Regions from separate parts of the Homo sapiens genome. Here region 2 is linked to region 1. Evidence: fine-mapped expression QTL. A gene starts in region 1. The other region holds a variant in brackets. All regions are shown on one strand. Distances are from middle to middle. Region 1 holds the start of IFNGR1 (interferon gamma receptor 1). Region 2 has its middle 21 kb from the start of IL22RA2.

Region 1 (5,383 bases):
ATTTTATAAGATGACTGGTCTTTCTAAATGGCATGTCTGATCCTGCATAAAATCATTTCCCTTTGTAATTGATAATCCAATGATGTCAGCATTAGTAAATAATGACTGACTTCAGCAAGGCATAGTGGGTGTATTATTTTGTTGGCTCAACACCTGTACTTCAGGCACGCCATTCCGCTTCTTCTGGTAACCCAACCCAACCCTCTACGAGAATGTCCTTCCCATGCAAGCTGGCACCTGAACCTAGCTGGGCAAATCAGAGCCTTTCCCTGGCATTTTGTTAGAATGGAGGAGGCTGCAAGATGTCAAAACTCAGAAGCTGTCAGCATCCATGATTCCTGCCAAGTGTGGAAAGCTGTCAATACCCAGACAGAAATAAGAAATGGAGAGTCCTAGCAGTTTGGGTTCCTGGTTCTAGCCTCTTGAGACCCAGCTGGCATCTATAATTTTCTGTTTAACTCTGGTTTTTCTGAGACAATAAATTCCTCTTTTTGCTTAAGTTAATAAAGCTAGGTTTCTTGCTGGTACACATAATATGGCAATTCATTATTTGGTTCCTACTTCTCCACCTAACCTATCTCCTCCCCTTGTAAGCTCTCACACACACTTTACAATAGAACGCTTAATATTCCACGAATTCAACATGCTATCACACCTCTGCACCTCAGTCTCTGCACCTCTGGTTCCAACACTGGGGTCACCTTTGTGAAGTCTTCACTGACTTCCCTAAAAGAGACAAGCACCCCGCCTTGCTTTCCACTAGTCTGTGCCTAAGTGCAAGCTCTTACCGCAAAGTACTGCAACTGCCCATGTGGATGACTGACTAGAGCCTAGAAGAGCAGTTAAGAACTTGGACTCTGGAGCCAAATTGAGCAGCTCCCCACTGAGTGGCTATGACCTCTCTGCCAGTTGGGCAGGCCTCTCCGTAACTCAATTTCTCGTCCATAAAGAGAGAGACAAATAACGCCTACTCCAGAAGATTGTTGTGAACACAGAACCAAAACGTGGACCTTTCAAAGTCCCTATGAATCATAAATCATAATAAAAAAAAGAAAACTGAATTGAAAAGGTTTACTGTTTTCTCTGGAGCTCGTAATCACAATTACTCTGCACTTCAGAAAAGCCACCCTCAACATTTGTTTTCTAGGAAATGTCAATAAGCAGGTGGAAATAAAATGCTCCGAAGAACAAACCCGTACGAAGAGACCTACTGCCAAATCTGCTAGTGAGTGCCGGCAATCCACCACTTCCAGACTGAGACCTAAGACGGACTGCCACTTACTTCTCAGCTGCCACTTACTTCTCAGCTGGCGACATAATGCATACTTTCCTACCCTAAGCACTTTGAGTCCCCCCCCCCACCCCCGCTAAGAAAGAAGTATTTAAGCCACGAACTGAGACCACGATGCCACATGCTGATCAGGACACTCACAGTCATGCGTCACTTAACGATGGAGATCCGTTCTGAGAAATGGAGAAATGTCCCCTTAGGCAATTTCTTCGGGCAGTAGAAACCCAGACAAACCCAGATGACACAGCCTACTGCTCTTAGGTCATGAACCTGTACAGCCTGTCACTGCACTGAACACTGCAGGCAACCGTAGCATACTAGTGAGTATCTGCGTATCTAACCATAAAAAAAGGTACAGTAAGAAGACGATATTATAATCTTTGAGACCACGCTGTCCCACATTGACCAGCAACGTCCTTCTGCAGCGCATAATCGTATTTAAAAGTGGATTACAAGAGTCGGAAAAACAAGCGGCGTGATTTGTTGTGGCGGCAACCAGGGAAGAGGCAGGAGAAAGGCAACCGACGAGTTCAAACCACGGAGCCCCAGTCTCGCGACCCCACCTCGCGTCCCCGTCGCCCGCTCAGGGCCCGACGCAGGGGTCCCGGGCTAGGGCGACCTCGGAGAAGCGGGGCGGGGCTTCCCGGCTGGGGCGGATCCCTCCCTCCCTCTCGTCCCGACCCGGCCGCAGCCCTGCCGCGAACGACGGTACCTGAGGACGGCCCCAGATCCGCGGTGCCCATCTCAGCCCTGCTCACACCCTGCATGACAAGGGGTAGGAGAAAGAGGAGAGCCATGCTGCTACCGACGGTCGCTGGCTCCAACCCCGAGCGCCTGCGGGACCAGCCCAGCACTGCCCTCCAGCCCCGGCCTTACGTCACTTCCGTCACCGGGGTCTGTGCCGGCGTCGGCAGGAGGCGGGACCAGGGCGTGGGCGGGGTCAAGTCCGGGAAGCCGCAGGAGGCGGACTCAGGCGCAGCACCCAGCAGTGAGCACGGCGTCGTGCGGTCGGGACCTGGACTTCTGGGTGTGGGAGGAATTTGAGTGCAAAGGTTAAGGTCTTTCAACCTGGCACCCCATTCTGCAATTCTTCTTCCAGTTTTTTTCGGTTTCCTGGGGTTGTGCAAGTTTGCATTAGGCCACAGCCGAGCCACAATCCTTATTTTACTAACTCTTGGACTTCACCTGGTTGTCTTGGAGCCTGACATTTTTAGAAGAGAATGAGACTTCAAAAGCCATTTCCAGTCCCTGCTTTTTCATTTGAGGAACCTGAGACTTAGCTAGTGAAATGGTTTGTGCAGATTCCCACAGCCCAAATCAAATCGGCTTGACCAAGAACTACTTTGTTCTTGGAGAAAAAAACTATTTGCATTACCTTCTCAGCAATTCAGTGTCAAATCAGTTTATCAGGCAGCCTCTCATGAAGAGGTCTGCTCTCTTACCTCTCTGGGTTTGTCTGTTATTTTGCATCTCTCCTATTCCACTGCAGCCACATTGCTAAGTCCTTCAGCGCTTGTGCTCAAACATGCGAATGTCTAATGATCTCACCTGTTTCAATTCTCTGAGTATCATGAACTTTTGTTAAAAATTTTAAATTGCAACACACCTTCTCCTCCTCCTTACCCCGCCCTACTGTTTTTTCATGGCACTTTTCACCTTGCTGTACACTATAATATACACCTTGATATTTGTTTTCTTCTCCTTCTAAAATGTAAGCTCCGTAGAGCTGACATCTTTACTTGGCACTCAATTAGTATTTGTTGAGTGAAAGACTGCATGATTACTAGTGTTAAGGAAAATTTTTAAAGAGGGAAAATCCTTATAAAGACACTATATAAACTAGAGGTATTATCAGCCAGATCATTTTACTTGTATTAATAAATCTCTTAGCTCAGTACTTCTCAAACTTCAACATACATGTGAACCATCTGGGGATCTTGATAAAATGCAGATTTGGATTCAGTAGTTCTAATTCAGGTTGGGTCTTGAGATTTTGTATTTCGGACAAAATGCACAGGGGATGCTGGTGCCCCTTTCAACAGGACCACACTTTGAATCAGAAGAATTTAGCTCAATCTAGACTAAGTTTAGGGAGAATATTTCCTTTGATGTGTTTCTGATGTCCACTATATGAAAGACACCTTCTAGTCGTTGTAAGGATGCAAGGATAAATAACTGATCTTTACCGTTTAGGCGTCTATGGAGTAGGACAAAATATGATATCCAGTTTGTAAACATTTTTGTGGTACTTGTCACAGGCTGGGTTACCCTGGCAGTAAACTCTGAGGTCGAGATTAAGGTATAAGGCATTGATTGATTAGGGAGTGCTCTTGGAATAAACGTCTGTGAAGGGGAGGTGGAGGAAGCAGAGCGGAGGAAGAAGTTGATCTGTGATGCCATCCCAGTAAAGGCTCCCAAGGGGCGCTCTGGAGTTGGGATGGCCTTGTAAAGGTGTCTTGAGTTGGTATGAGGGGCTGGGTCTTAAAGCCCAGCACTGATTAGTCATTGAATACCAACTGTCATGATTTTGGGGCTGTCCATTTCTTTCATGGAGGCATTCCCCAGAGGAACGCTGACGGTTGAGGGTGTCTACTGGCAGCCCTCCTAGCATCAGGAAGGGGACAGAACCCAGTCTTCTGTTCCTGAGAGGGATCTGGGCAAGTTTCACAATCACAGCACCCACCACCCTACGTATCCTTCTGAAGACTTTGCTAGTTAGTCATTTGGAGACTAAATATATTTATTAATTGGGTGAATATTATCAAGTGATACTGTCTGTGACTGACATGACCAGGCACAGAGATAAAGACCTGAGCAAGACAGACATGGCCCCTGCCCTCACGGAGCTTACTGTCTACTGAGGGAGATAGCTGTTAAACAAGGAATTACACAAGTACTGAAATCGTGATCATCATTCCCAAGGAGAGCAATGGGAAGAGATTAAAGGAGTATAAACAGGAATTTAACTTAGTCTACATTTTAAAGAAAGTCTTTCTTTTCTTTTTTCTTTCTTTTGAGACAGGGTCTCACTCTGTCGTCTAGGCTGCAGTGCAGAGGCATGATCATAGCTTACTGCAGCCTCAAACTCCTGGGCCCAAATGATCCTCTTGCCCCAGCCTCCCAAATAGCTGGGACTACAGGTGTACACCACCATGCCTGGCTAATTTTTTTTTTTTTTTTTGAGACAGGGTCTGACTGTATCACCTAGCTGAGGTACAGTGGCACAATCTCAGCTGACTGCAACCTCCACCTCCCGGGCGCAAGCCATCCTTCCACCTCAGCCTCCCAAGTAGCTGGGACCACAGGCATTTTTTTGTGTCTTTTGTGGAGATGGGGTTTCACCATGTTGCCCAGGCTGATCTCAAACTCCTGAGCTCAAGCAATCCGCCCACCTTGGCCTCCCAAAGTGCTGGGATTACAGGAGTGAGCCACCTCGCCTGGCCTTATGCCCGGCTAGTTTTTAAATTTTTTATAGAGCTGGGGTCTTGCTGTGTTGCTCAGGCTGGTCTCAAACTCCTGGGCTCAAATGATTCTCCTGCCTCAGGCTCCCAAAATGCTGGGATTACAGGTGTGAGCCACTGTGTCTGGATTTAGGGAAATTCTTTTTTAAGGAAGTTACCATTATGTTGTGACCTGAAGGATAAGGTAAAATTAGCCTGAATAAAGTTAAAAGATGGGGGTGGCCACCGGCTAATAAGAGAGGTAGGAAGAAGAGCAATAAACTGTATTTTAAAATCCCATATAAAAATCTCATACAGCTAACACAGAAACAAATGAGCGGTGCCAGCTTTCCTTGATAAATTTCCAATGCCTAATGGCTGGGGAATATCCAAGTATACGTTGGTCCCCACTAGAGCCTCAGATTAGTTTTTAAAATGAAGAAAACAAATTGGGGTGGAGCGTAGATCATTCCAAAGCCAAGTGTATACTGAAGTGCTGCTGCTCAGGAGCAAGGCTACATTTTGAAGACCATACTCACCTGCCTTTCAAGTTAATAGGCCAAATAAAACAATTTAAGAAGCTAGAAATATGATCCAATGAGAACAGAGCCTGTGTGTGTGGAACAAACTGTGCATTTTGGCTCTGAGCACA
Region 2 (5,383 bases), 25 kb before region 1:
TTGTTTTTTTTTTTTAAGAAAGGAAGTGAACACAGAAACCAAGCACATGTTTTTGTTTTTGTTTGTGCAGCTGCCAGGAATTTTAGCCAATTCAGAGGCCTTGTTTCCCCTAATTTGGAATTCTCATTGGAATTTGACCAAGTCTGTTATAGTTGATCAAATCCTATGGGAGAAAGATCAGAACAACAAAAACCCCAACAATATGATTACTGAGTGCTCTAACGGTAAGGAGAAATTAAAACCAGCTGCTTGTCAATTTCAACTTGTAGTCATTAAGGAGAATTTCCAAGACAAAAAAATCCCAATTCTTGCTACTTACCTAGGAATAGAGCCCTGGCACAAGATTGCTCTTTACCATCTTAGAAGCAGGAAAAATACCTGGAAAGGTGCACAGGAACAGACATAAGGTTCTTGCCTTCCCTATCGGAAACTAGCTGAAACTCCAGAAATGAGTTACCTGCTATGCATCATCATGGAAGCAGAAAAACTTGCTTTCCTTGTTGGAATCAAGTAAAACTCCAGAAAAGGAGTTGTAGAGCAAAATAAGCTTTAGATCTCGACCAAATTTTGAGAGATCAGGGATTCTCTGGAGGGGGAACTCCCAGGCCTCAGCAAATTGTCCTTCTGATTTGAGCCATAAGGATAGCTCAAGCTGGTACCAAGCACCAATAGATTCATCAAAGGTCAGGGGCACCTCCACTCAGAATCCCTTCATCACCAATTTGTGAACTCAAAAGTATCTGAGACAGATCTCAATACATTTAGACGGTTTATTTTGCCAAGGTTAAGGATGTGCCCATGACACATGTGCCCATGACACAGCCTCAGGAGGTCCTGATGACATGTGCCCACGGTGGTCAGGGTACAACTTGCTTTTATACTTTTTAGGGAGGCATAATACATCAATCAATACCTGTAAGATGTACACTGGTTCAATCTGGAAAAGCAGGACAACTTGAAGTGGGGGCTTCCAGGTTATAGGTAGATTTAAGAATTTTCTGATTGGCAATTTGTTGAAAGAGTTATGTTGTTACCCAAAGACCCAGAATCAATAGAAATACCTGGGTTATGATGATAAGGGGTTGTAGAGACCAAAGTTTATCAGGCAGATGAAGCCTCCAGGTAGCAGATTTCAGAGAGAATAGATTGAAAATGTTTCTTATCAGACGTAAGTTTAATGCTGGTCAGCTTTTCCTAAGTTCCAAAAGGGAGGAGGGTATACTGAGTTATATCCAACTCTCCCTTCCCATCATGGCCTGAACTAGTTTTTCAGGTTAACTTTACAATGCGCTTGGCCAAGAGGGGGCGTCCGTTTAGATGGTTTGAGGTGGGGAGGGCTTACAATTTTATTTTTGGCTTACATAGTAAAGGTTAATTATCTCAATACAATTAGGTCATCTTCATTTTTCTTTTAAAAACTTTTGTCTTCCTTTATCTCCCTGAATACACAGGCAGTTTACTATTTTCTCATTGCAAGACCCATTCTCAAATATTATTTTCTTTTAGAGAGACTCTTGCTGTTATTTAGGTTCACAAGATGGTGTCAGAAGTGAAATAAAAGTGGCCTCACCTCAGATGGATCAGAGGCCCCTCGAATTGAGTGAAGTACCTACTGACCCCTTTGGCCCTCACCTCTTTTTATACCAGGAAAGGGACTGGCACATCTCTGGTTATGTAGCAAAAATGTCCCATAGCCCAAGGGCTGGGGTCTGACATCCAGTCTGACTACATACCTGTGTTGTTCAGCTCCACGAATTTTCCTTAAAAAGGCTGTCTGAGAAGCCAATGTGTGAGTGTTCTCTACTACTCACCTTTTATTGGTAGATATCTGCTCAATATTTAATTTTGGAGATACATTGTGGGTATTATAACATTTTATAATTAGCTCTAGAAAGGACACTCTGGGAATGTGCTAGTCAGAACATATCTCTGCCACTCTTTCCTCTCAATTAAATATCTGACACTTATCTCCTGGGCAGAGGAGATACTGGAGCAAAGAGAGCTTGGGGTACGTGGTTAAGCCTTAAAGCCCTGTAACAGTACCAATGGAGAGACCAGTTATTATTTGCAGGGCGGTGGAAGGTAGAGTAAGTATTGCATCTCATAAATGAAGCTAACTAATGACTATACAAACAAAGCTGGCACTTATTTTCTAAGTCATCCACTTATATCCTTATCAGGCATAAGAAGTGGTACCTTAAATTGGACCCAGGCAGTAATCTTAAGACAATTTAACTTGGCATGAATAATGGTTCAATAACGTGAATTTCTGGTAACCAGAAATAAGTAGGGGAAAAAAAATTAAGTTTAGACACAAAACTGTGTTGGAAAGATGATGCT[T/C]TAATTTTTTTTTTTTTTTTTTGAGACGAAGCCTTGCTCTGTCACTAGGCTGGAGTGCAGTGGCGTGATCTCAGCTCTCTGCAACCTCTGCCTCCTGGATTCAAGCGATTCCTGCCTCAGCCTCCTCAGTAGCTGGGACTACAGGTATGCACCATCACGCATGGCTAATTCTTGTGTTTTTAGTAGAGACGGGGTTTCACCATGTTGGCCAGGATGGTCTCAATCTCTTGACCTTGTGATCCGCCTGCCTCGGCCTCCCAAAGTGCTGGGATTACAGGCATGAGCCACCGCACCCAGCCAATGCTCTTACTAATTAACACAAATGGAAGCAATGACTCTTAAGAGCCAAAAGATAGAGAGAATGTAATCCAACCCTCTCATGAGGCTAAGCGATTTGCCCACAGCCACCAGGTTTGGTCAATCACTCTTGGAAAATAGCGTATACCAATTCATCAAAGTTTGAGGACAAGGGAATAAAAAACAAAATATAATATTGGTGATGAGAAGGCAGGATTACTCTTATTTATAGACAACACGTTTGTACACTGGGAAAACCAATCAACTAAAAACCATGAAGAAAAAACAGTTTAGATGTTGGCTAGATACAAAAACAACTTGTAACAATAGTTTGTGTGTGCGTGTACATATAGACAGCCATTCAGGAGCCACAATGCAAGATGACATTCCCATAGGCAACAAAAAACATAAAATATCAAGGAATACACTTAGTAAATTTTCTACACCTGTATGAAGTAAACCTCTAATGAGGGATGTAAGACTTGAAGACAGAAATAGTCTCCATTCTTGCAGAACATTCAACCCTTGAAAATATTAGTTATTTCTAAACATTTTATAAAGTCAAAACAATGCCAACATAAATCCCAAAGGAGTTTAAAATTTGGGGGAAAACTTGGCCAAAAAATTTAGGTTATAGTTCACCTAAAAAATAATTATTGCTGGCAGGGCGCAGTGTCTCACACCTGTAATCCCAGCACTTTGGGAGGCCGAGGCAGGCAGATCATGAGGTCAGGAGATCGAGACCATCCTGGCTAACATGGTGAAACCCTGTCTCTACTAAAAATACAGTAAGTAAATAAATAAATAATTATTGCTAAGAAATATGAGCAATGAACATTGGCTGAAAGTATTCAGGAAAGCCTCAGAAGTCAAAACAGCCTGTAATTGCAGCACTTTGGGAGGTTGAGGTAGGCAGATTGCTTGAGCACAGGCATTTGAAGCCAGCCTGAGCAACATGGCAAAACCCTGTCTCTACAAAAAAATACAGAACATTAGCCAGGTATGGTCATGAGCGTCTGTACTAGCTACTTGGGGGGCTGAGGCAGGAGTGTTGCTTGATTACAAGAGGTTGAGGCTGCAGTAAGCCATGTTCGTGCCACCGCACTCCAGCCTGGGTGACAAAGCTAGACTCTGTCTCAAAAAAACATAAAATATATCCCAGTATAATGTGTATTAAAAGTGTGATACATAGACGGGAAAAGACTGAACAACAAAACTGTTCCAGGAGTGCTGAGAATTTGGCATGTGATAAATGTGACATTTGAAATCAGCATAGAAAAGTTAGATAATTTAATGAATAGTATTTGGGATAACTAATTTGTTAAGGGAAATATATGAGTTGAGTTGTATCCTCAAAAAGATGTGTTGAAGTCCTAACCCCTGGTACCTATGAATGTGATCTTAACTGGAAAGTGTCTTTACAGATGTAATCAAGTTAAGAGGAGGTCATACTGGATTAGAGTGGGACTAATCAATCCAATTGACTGGTGTCCTTATAAAGATCTGGACACAGACATACAGAGAAGAATGCCAGGTGACAAGAGGCAGAAATTGGAATAATGCAGCCATAAGTCAGAGAATATCAAGGATTGACAACAATCACTAGAAACTAGGAAGGGGCCCTCCACCCCTAGAGCTTTCAGATAGAATCTGGCCCTATTGAAACCTTGATTTCAGACCTCTAGCCTCTGAACTGTGAGATAACAAATTTCTGTTGTTTTAAGCCACCCAAGTTTGTGGTAATTTATTACGGCAGCCACAGGAAACTAAAACAAAAAAATAAAGCTGGATCTCTATCTCTGTCCTCAAAGGAAAAAAATCTAGATGGATAGAAGAATTAAATGTAAAACAATCATCACCAAAGACCAGAAGAAAACATGAGTGAAAACTTCTATCTTTTGGGGAAAGGGGAAGGGCTTTTTAAAAATAGAAGGAAATAAATAAATTTGACTTTATAAACAACTTAAACATCTGTGTGGTAAGTCAAAAGGCAGGAAATTATAAAATAAATCTGTAACTCAGGGCAGATAAAGGGTAGTAAGAAAGATATAAACAGCCCATAAAAAAATGGACAAAGAACAAGATGAGTTGGCATGAAACTATAAATAAGATATAAAAACATGCTCAAATTTACTAAAGAAATGCAAATGCATTTAATGTGTAAAGTGTTTTACCGAGATTAAAGACTTATTTCAGTCAATTAGCTAGGGTGTAAAAACAGGTACTTCATTCACATTTGATGGGAGTACACATTGGTATAATCATTTTGGAGGGTAGTAAGTATTACCTCTTCCTTGGCTATTTCAATTATTTTCATATTTTTGCTTTTCCCATTCTAATGTGTGCATTGTTCATGTAGTTTTTTTTTTTTTTTTGTAATTTTCCCACAAGAGAGATCAAAGTCTGTTGAAGGATATTACTTTTGTGGAATGTGATATGTATGGGGTATCAGTTTGAAAAGCAATTTACAAGACATTACCCTAAAATCAGTGACTATACCAGTTCCACTGCAAACCACACCACTACTTTTTTCACTGATAGTATCTCATTTGTAATTTGCATTTTTAAGTGAAGAGAAATATCTTTCCAGAAACCAAAGAAATGTGATTTGCTACTCATGTAAATTGTATTTCATTTTTTTTGGTCCATTAATTCACAGATTCATATTAATTTCTGAATATTTCTATCCTCTTAGTAATTCCAAGAAATCCTTGGGTAACATATATATTAACTCTTGGTTTGCCTC

The links. PIP is the estimated chance that this variant, and not a neighbour inherited with it, causes the effect.
Region 2: its variant is fine-mapped to the expression of IFNGR1 in T cells (TOPMed, PIP 0.98).

What each region holds. Positions count from the first base shown.
Region 1 is chr6:137,217,240-137,222,622 of GRCh38, forward strand. IFNGR1 (interferon gamma receptor 1) reads right to left here and starts at 2,146. Exons shown (of 7, transcript NM_000416.3): 1 at 2,004-2,146. The coding sequence starts at 2,088. RefSeq lists enhancers at 286-345, 1,786-2,516, 2,367-2,616 and silencers at 1,327-1,376, 1,837-2,056, 2,097-2,326.
Region 2 is chr6:137,191,756-137,197,138 of GRCh38, forward strand. No RefSeq gene overlaps it. Among named protein-coding and RNA genes, the nearest start is that of IL22RA2, 21 kb to the left of the region's middle. The variant T/C (reference allele first, on the strand shown) is at 2,341.